2 separate regions of the Homo sapiens genome follow, and region 2 is linked to region 1. The links come from fine-mapping of genetic effects on gene expression. A gene starts in region 1. The other region holds a variant in brackets. All regions are shown on one strand. Distances are from middle to middle. Region 1 holds the start of WIPI2 (WD repeat domain, phosphoinositide interacting 2). Region 2 has its middle 41 kb from the start of WIPI2.

Region 1 (4,344 bases):
CCCAGACCAGCTTGGAGCCTTTCGGAAGGATTTCCTCATCTGTAGTTGGATGAGGTGATTTGCCCCTTCCGACTCTCAATACAGTCCCACTGTGCGACTGTCTTCACAGCTTTGGGGAGGTGCTATTGAGTGCCTGCTGTACACCACCCACTGAGTGTTGTCCATTCTACAATTCACTTTTAATTTCCTAAAGAATCTTACCTTCTGCTATGTTAATTCCACTCAGCCAGTAACAACTCAACCAATGACTTAGTAAGATGCCAAATGCCCCACTCCTTCTCTTTCCTCACTTCCTCTTACTCACTTCCAAGATGGCTCTCCTCCCTGCCAACCCCATAACTCACCCTTCTCTCTCCAGAAAGCTCGCTCATCTATTAACCATCCCCACAAGTCCTCCTCCCAGGCAGCATCCAACCCGTATCAGTGGGGACAAACAGCGTTCCGAATGCACGGGCTGGCATTAAGGCCTTCTCTTGCCCTGAGGATGACCCACCCGCTGGAGCTCTGAGACTCCTGGGGCACTGGTCCGTAACGCCTCTCTTGGCTCAGTTTCTCCCTAGCTAGGTCAGATGCCAAGGTTATTGCTAAGTTTGTTACTTGCTGGAGAAGACATCAAAGTTGATGTCCCAAAAAGAACAGGGAGGGCCGCGCACGGTGGCTCACACCTGTAATCCCAGCACTTTGGGAGGCTGAGGTGGGCGGATCACTTGAGGTCAGGAATTTGAGACCAGCCTGACCAACATGGTGAAACCCTGTCTCTACTACAAATACAAAAAAGTTAGCTGGGCACAGTGGCGCGTGCCTGTAGTCTCAGCTACTCGGGAGGCTGAGGCAGGAGAATCGCTTGAACCCAGGAGGCGGAGGTTGCAGTGAGCTGAGATGGCACCACTGCACTCCAGCCTGGGCAACAGAGCAAGACTCTGTCTCAAAACAAAACAAACCCCAAAAAACAAAAACAAACAAAAAAACAGTGAGAAACGAAGAAAAGAAAATCAAGAGAGAGAGAAGGGTCTTAAGACGATGAAAAGACAAGGAGAAGGGCCTGATTCAAAGGAGAGTGAGTGGGAGACGCTGAGCAAGCAGCGGGAAGAGGAGACGAGAGGAGAGGAAGCGACCCACACCCAGCGCTCCACAGGCGGCCAAGACAAGTCAAGCCCCAAAGTTCGGCCCCAACTTTGCGAGAAGTAGTTAAGTCTGAAGCCAGGGGGCCTCCCCGCAAGAGGGTGAAAGCAGCCCCCTCTCCACCACCTCTCCCGCTCCGGGACCGCAGCTCCAGGCCAGCACCCGAGGGTCTCCCTGGAGGGCGCCCCTCCCTGCACGCCCCGGGCCCGCCCCTGGGGACGCCTCTGCGCGCCTTGGCCCGCGGGGAGGCCGAGCCTGCGACGCCGCCGAGCTTGGCAGCGAGGCCCTCCCCCTAGCCCGGGTCCGACCCTGGCCTCACCCCGACTCCGACCCCCGACCCCGGCCTTACGTGTTGTCCTGGTTGAAGTTGGCGAAGAGCAGCTGGCCGGCGCCGGCCTCCCCGCTCTGGCTCGCCAGGTTCATGGCTGGGCGCGCGGCGAGTGGGCCCGGCCGGGGAGGGCGCGCGCGCGAGGGCGGGTCAGGCTGCACTCAGGGTCGGCGCCGGGCCCCGCTCGCCGCCTCGGTCGCCGCCACTCGCCACCCTGGGATCAACCGCCGCCTCATCCCGTCCCCGCTCTTGTTTATGCTCCAGAGCCGGGGCACCCGGTACGCCTGCGCGGCCCCGCCCCCGCGACGCACGGCCTCGAGCGGCGCAGTCGCACTGCGGAGGCCCCGCCCTCTCACCGCCTGCCTGGGCTTGGGTTCCGGTGGATCACGCAGGCGTGGGGACGCGTCGGGGCGCGCTGGGCCTGGCTGAGGGCGAGCGGCGGCCGCTCATGCGCATGGGGCAGAGCTGGCGGGAGTCTGTTTTCTGCGTACCCTCCTCTTAATAACACTCAATGGCCAGGCACGGTGGCCTGTAATCCCAGCATTTTGGGAGGCCAAGGCGGGCGGATCACCTAAGATCAGAAGTTCGAGACCAGCCTGGCCAACATGGTGAAACCCCGTCTCTACTAAAAATACAAGAAAAATTAGCCGGGCTTGGTGGTGTACGCCTGTAATCCCAGCTACTCGGGAGGCTGAGGCAAGATAATCGCTTGAACCCAGGAGGCGGAGATTGCAGTGAGCCGAGATCATGCCACTGCAATCCATCCAGCCTGGGCCATAGAGCGAGACTCTGTCTCAAACAACAACAAAAACAAAAACAAAAACACCCCAATGGGCCCTCCATGTGCCAATCACTGTGCTGAATGCTTCTGCGCATTACCTTATCATTTTATTATTTTGAAAGACAAGGTCTCGCTCTGTTGCCTAGGCTGGAGTGCAGAGGCTCAATCACAGCTCACTGCAGCCTCAAACTCAGGCTCAAGCGATCCTCCCACCTTAGCCTCCCAAGTAGCTGGGACCACAAATGCATGCCACCACACCCTGCTAACTTTTAAGTTTTTTGTAGAGATGGGGTGGGGGCGGGGGGGGTCTTACTCTGTTGCCTAGGCTGGTCTCGCACTCCTGGCCTCAAGTGATGCTCCCACCTCGGCCTCCCAAAGTACTGGGATTACAGATGTGAGCCACTGTGCCCAGCCACATTATCTTATTTGATGCCCATTACAATCCTAAGTAGAGAATAGTATATCTTAATTTTACAGATTTGAAAATCGAGGCTCAGAAATAATTATTAGCCAAGTGCTAGATCTGAGACTGGAAACGTCCTGTTTCTCCAAGGTCCATACTGTCTGGGTTCCTGGGACAGAATCGTCCCTTAAATTTATTCATTCATTCAACAGTATTTAGGACGCACCTCTCATGTGAACTAAATAGGCCTCCTCCTTTCCCTCAGAGAAGTTATAATGGGGAGATATTTAAATATAAATAGAAGGCCAGGTGTGGTGGCTCTTACCTGTAATCCCAGCACTTTGGGAGGCTGAGGCGGGTGGATCACCTGAGGTCGGGAGTTCCAGACCAGCCTGGCTAACATGGTGAAACCCCGTCTCTACTAAAAGTACAAAAGTTAGCTGGGTATGGTGGTGGGCACCTGTAATCTCAGCTACTAGGGAGGCTGAGGTGGGAGAATTGCTTGAGCCCCACAGGTGGAGGTTGCAGTGAGCCGAGATTGCACCTCTGCACTCCAGCCTGGACGGACGACAGAGTGAGACTCCATCTAAAAAGTAAAATAAAATAGGCTGGGCATGGTGACTCACGCCTGTAACCCCAGCACTTTGGGAGGCTGAGGCAGGTGGATCACCTGAGGTCATGAGTTTGAGACTAGCCTGCCCAACATGGTGAAACCCTGTCTCTAGGAAAAATGTAAAATATTAGCCAGTTGTGGTGGCACGGCCCTGTAATCCCAGCTACTCAGGAGACTGAGATGGGAGAATTGCTTGAACCCAGGAGGTGAAGGCTGCAGTGAGCCGAGATCATGCCACTGCACTCCAGCCTGGGCGACACAGTGAGACTCCATCTCAAAAAATAAAATAAATAAATATAATTAGAAACTCGGGGGTACAATGAGCGAATATATATATATATATATATATATATATATTTTTTTTTTTTTTTTTTTTTTTTTTGAGACGGAATTTCACCTTCTTGACCAGGCTGGAGTGCGATGGCGCAATCTCGGCTCACTGCAACGTCCACCTTCCGGGTTCAAGTGATTCTCCTGCCTCAGCCTCCCGAGTAGCTGGGATTACAGGTGTGCACCATCACGCCCAGTTAATTTTTGTATGTTTAGTGGAGACGGGATTTCTCCATGTTGGTCACGCTGGTCTCGAACTTCCGACCTCAGGTAATCTGCCTGCCTCGGCCTCCCAAAGTGCTGGGATTACAGGCATGAGCCACTGTGCCTGACCATGAATGCATATATAGAAGTCACACAACCTATATTTAAGGGACAGGGACTGTGCTATTGAGAAGGCTCCTGGAAGAGATGAGACCTGAAGTTTGAGTAACTAGTCTAAGGGCATGAAAACACTCTATATGGGAAGGGCTTGAGGATGAGGGTGTGACCTGTCCAAAGAACTCTATGTTCAGAGTGGAAAGGCAGACACAAGGCAAGATTTGGCAGGAGAGACAGGAGGTGGCCAGATCAAGCTGCGTATTGTTACGCAAGGAACTGACCATTATCTGATTATTGTCCATAAGAGCAATGGTCTGCCGTTAAAGACAGGCAGGAAAGTGGAACGATCTAATGAGTGCTTACAGAAGTTAATTCTAATTATAGGGTCAAGAACGCATTGGAAATCATTGAGGAAAGGATGGTCTTTTCAATAAAAGGAATAAGTA
Region 2 (4,387 bases), 40 kb after region 1:
TTTTTTTCAAAAAGATGTCAGCAGTCATTGGTGATCATTACCTAAGGGTGTTTTTGTTTGTTTGTTTGTGTTTGAGATGGAGTCTTGCTCTGTCGCCCAGGCTGGAGTGCAGGGGCGCGATCTTGGCTCACTGCAAGCTCCGCCTCTTGGATTCACGCCATTGTCCCGAGTAGCTGGGACTACAGGCGCCTGCCAACACACCCGGCTAATTTTTTGTATTTTTAGTAGAGACGGGGTTTCACCGTGTTAGCCAGGATTGTCTCGATCTCCTGACCTCGTGATCCACCCGTCTTGGCCTCCCAAAGTGCTGGGATTACAGGCGTGAGAAAAAAAAAGTTTTTTAGAGATGATGTCTTGCCATGTTGCCCAGGCTGGTCTTGAACTGGGCTCAATCGATCCTCCCACCGTAGGCTCCCAAAGTGCTGGAATTACAGGTGTGAACCACCAAGCCCAGCTAGAGCACTCATTTAGGAGTCTAGTTTTCTGACTCCTTCGGAGTCACATGGATTTTTTTAATGAGAAATAATCATTGGTGATTTTTTTTTTTTTTTGAGATAGTCTCACTCTGTTGCCCAGGCTGTGGATTAGTGGCATGATCTTGGCTCACTGCAACTTCCACCTTCTGAGTTCGAGCAATCCTTCTGCCTCAGCCTCCCAAGTAGCTAGCACTACAGACAGGTGTGCACCACCACACCTGGCAAATTTTTTTTTTTTTTTTTTTGGAGACAGAGTCTTGCTCTCTTGCCAGGCTGGAGTGCAGTGGTGTGATCTTGGCTCACTGCAACCTCTGCCTCCTGGGTTCAAGCGATTCTCCTGTCTCAGCCTCCTGAATAGCTGGGACTACAGGTGCGCACCACCACACCCAGCTAATTTTTGCATTTTTAGTAGAGACGGGGTTTCACCGTGTTGGCCAGGGTGGTCTTGATCTCTTGACCTCAGGATCCACCTGCCTCGGCCTCCCAAAGTGCTGGATTACAGGCATGAGCCACTACTTCCGACAAATTTTTGTATTTTTTAGTAGAGACAGGGTTTCACCATGTTGCCCAGGCTGGTCTTGAACTCCTGGCCTCAAGTGATCCACCCACCTCAGCCTTCCAAAATGCTGGGATTACAGATATGAGCCACCACGTTCGGCTTTATCAGTAATTTTTAGAGCACTTTTATTTTGGGAGCTCTATTACAGCAGTTTTATCCATGTCCTAAATAATATAGTTGCATACGTTCTTAGCTCTCATTTTGTAATTAGAGTTGGAATATTCCCCTTCCCATTCATTTTACAGGAGTTTTCATGTTATCTTGATATTAGAAGATGATAGCTGTAAGAGTTTTATTTTCTCTCTTACTAGGGAAGATAGGAAAAATAATAAAGATTTTATCTTTGGAAAAATAAACAAGTGATAGACAAATCTCTGGTGACACTAATCAATATAAAAGAGAAATTATTGGAAAACTCTCTAAAAATAGATATAGGAATTTAATTTTTTTTGCTACTGTTTCATAGCAACCATGAATTTATTGGGAAGGAAAACATTTTCAACCATTTATTATTACTTTTTCTTTTCTTTTTTTTTTTTTTGAGAGGGAGTCTCAATTTGTTGCCCAAGCTAGAGTGCAGTGGCGCTGTCTCTCCTTACTGCAAACTCTGCCTCCTGGGTTCAAGCAATTCTCCTGCCTCAGCTTTCCTAGTAGCTGGGATTACAGATGCCTGCCACCACACCCAGCTAATTTTTGTATTTTAGTAGAGACAGGGTTTCACCATGTTGGCCAGGCTGGTCTTGAACTCCTGACCTTGTGGTCCGCCCGCCTTGGCCTCTCAAAGTGCTGGGATTACAGGCATGAGCCCCCTCCCCCAGCCTATTATTACTTTTTTTTTTTTTGAGACAGGGTCTCGCTCTGCTGGTCAGGTTGGAGTGCAGTGGTGTGATCATAGCTCACTGCAGCCTCAAGCTCCCAGGTTCACGCGATCCTCCTACCTTGGCCTCCCAAAGTGCTGGGATTACAGGTGGGAGCCACTGTACTAGCCTTTGTACCATAATAAAATAAAGTCAGCCCTTCATATTTGGAGGGGATTGGTTCCAGGACACAACCCCTTTGTATTAGTTCATTCTCATACTGCTATGAAGAACTACCTGAGACTGGGTAATTTATAAAGAAAAGAGGTCTAATTGACTCACAGTTCTGCAGCCTGTACAGGAAGCGTGGCTGGGGA[G/A]GCCTCAGGAAACTGACAGTCATGGCGGAAGGCAAAGGGGAAGCAGGAATGTCTTACATGGCCAGAGCAGGAGGAAGAGAGAGAAAGACGGGAGGTGCTGCACACTTTTAAACAACCAGCTCTCATGATAAGTCACTCACTCTCACGAGTACAGCACGAAAGGGGAAACCTACCCCCATGATCCAATCGCCTCCCACCAGACCCACCTCCAACACTGGGGATTATAATTTTTTTTTTTTTTTTTTTTCCTGAGATGGAGTCTTGCTTTGTTGCCCAGGCTGGAGTGCAGTGGTGCAATCTCAGCTCACTGCAGCCTCTGCCTCCCGGCTTCAAGCAGTTCTCCTGCCTCAGCCTCCCAAGTAGCTTGGATTACAGGCATGTACCACCATGTCCGGCTAATCTTTGTTTTTTTAGTAGAGACGGAGTTTCATCATGTTGGCCAGGGTGGTCTCGAACTCCTGACCTCAGGTGATCCACCTGCCTCGGCCTCCCAAAGTGCTGGGATTACAGGTGTGAGCCAGCGCGGCCAGCCGGGGATTATAATTTAACATGAAATTTGGGCGGGGACACAGACCCAAACCATATCACCCTCATACCCAAATCTGCCATACTCAAATCCCACAGTTGGCCTTGCGGAACTGTGTATATGAAAAGTTGGGCTTGTATTTATTTGAGTTTCACATCCCTCAAATACTGTATTTTCTATTTGTGTTTGGTTGAAGAAAAAAAAACCTGCATATAAGTGGACCTTCGAAGTTCAAACCCATGGTGTTTGAGGGTCTACATAGTGTATTTTTTCCCCACTGATCTAAAATACAAATTTGTAGAGAAATCTTGAAAAAGTAATAGGCATAACAAATATCTGAGTTAAAAACATGTCCTGATTAAAGGACAATCTGGAAGAAAATATGTATAACCAAAATGACCTAAAGAGGAAGAAAGGAACAAATGACGTAAAACCCCAAAAGGATTATTCTTTTATATGCATATATATAATTTTTTTTTTTTTTTTTTTTTTTTTGAGACAGAGTCTTGCTCTGTCGCCCAGGCTGGAGTGCTGTGGCGAAATCTCGGCTTACTGCAACCTCTGCCTCCTGGATTCAAGTGATTCTCTTTCAAACAATTCTCCTGACTCAGCCTCCTGAGTAGCTGGGATTACAGGGCCCACCACCACGCCCAGCTAATGTTTTTATTTTTTTATTTTTATTTTTGAGATGAAGTTTCGTTCTTGTTGCTCAGGCTGGAGTGCAGTGGTGCAATCTTGGCTCACTGCAACCTCCGCCTCCTGGGTTCAAATGATTCTCCTGCCTCAGCCTCCCGAGTAGCTGGGATTACAGGCATGCGCCACCACACGTGGTTAATTTTTTTTGTATATTTAGTAGAGACGGGGTTTTGCCCTGTTGGTCAGGCTGGTCTCAAACTCCCGACCTCAGGTGATCCGCCCATCTTGGCCTCCCAAAGTGCTAGGATTACAGGCGTGAGCTGCTGGCTAATTTTTGTATTTTTAGTAGAGACGGGGTTTCGCAATGTTGGTCAGGCTGGTCTGAAACTCCTGACCTCAGGTGATCCACCCACCTTGGCCTTCCAAAGTGCTGGGTTTACAGGTGTGAGCCACTGTGCCTGGCCCCAAAAGGATTATTCTGAAAAGAGTCTCCACCCACAAGATTTGTAAATGAATCATTTTTATGGAGATGATTTCTACTGTTTATTTGTTTTCTTTTTGTTTTGTTTTGTTTTTTTGAGATGGAGTCACACACTGTGGGCTCAGGGCTGGAGTGCAATGGTGCTATCTCGGCTCCCTGCAACCTTTGTCTGCTGGGTTCACGCAATTCTCCTGCCTCAGCCTCCTGAGCAGCTGGGATTACAGGCCTACACCATCACACCTGGCTAATTTTGTGTATTTTTAGTAGAGCCAGGGTTTCACCATGTTAGCCATGATGATCTCGAACTCCTGTCCTCGTGATCTGCCTGCCTCGGCCTCCTAAAGTGCTGGGATTACAGGCATGAGCCACTGCGCCCGGCCTAGTGTTGATAATTCTCTCTAGAACCACACGGTAGAAACCACAGGTAGAATCTACCACAAGTTAGAAATCTATGTAGTTGAATGTGCAAAGGACTCCAATTACTGATGTCCAAACTTGATCCAGGAAACCAGATACAAAACCTTTTACAAAGAGA

The links. PIP is the estimated chance that this variant, and not a neighbour inherited with it, causes the effect.
Region 2: its variant is fine-mapped to the expression of WIPI2 in whole blood (INTERVAL, PIP above 0.99). The same link has a PIP of 0.9 or more in monocytes.

Annotation. Positions count from the first base shown.
Region 1 is chr7:5,187,621-5,191,964 of GRCh38, reverse strand. It overlaps WIPI2 (WD repeat domain, phosphoinositide interacting 2), which reads right to left and starts at 1,732. Exons shown (of 13, transcript NM_015610.4): 1 at 1,472-1,732. The coding sequence starts at 1,545. RefSeq lists silencers at 1,238-1,287, 1,298-1,947.
Region 2 is chr7:5,147,400-5,151,786 of GRCh38, reverse strand. No RefSeq gene overlaps it. Among named protein-coding and RNA genes, the nearest start is that of WIPI2, 41 kb to the left of the region's middle. The variant G/A (reference allele first, on the strand shown) is at 2,210.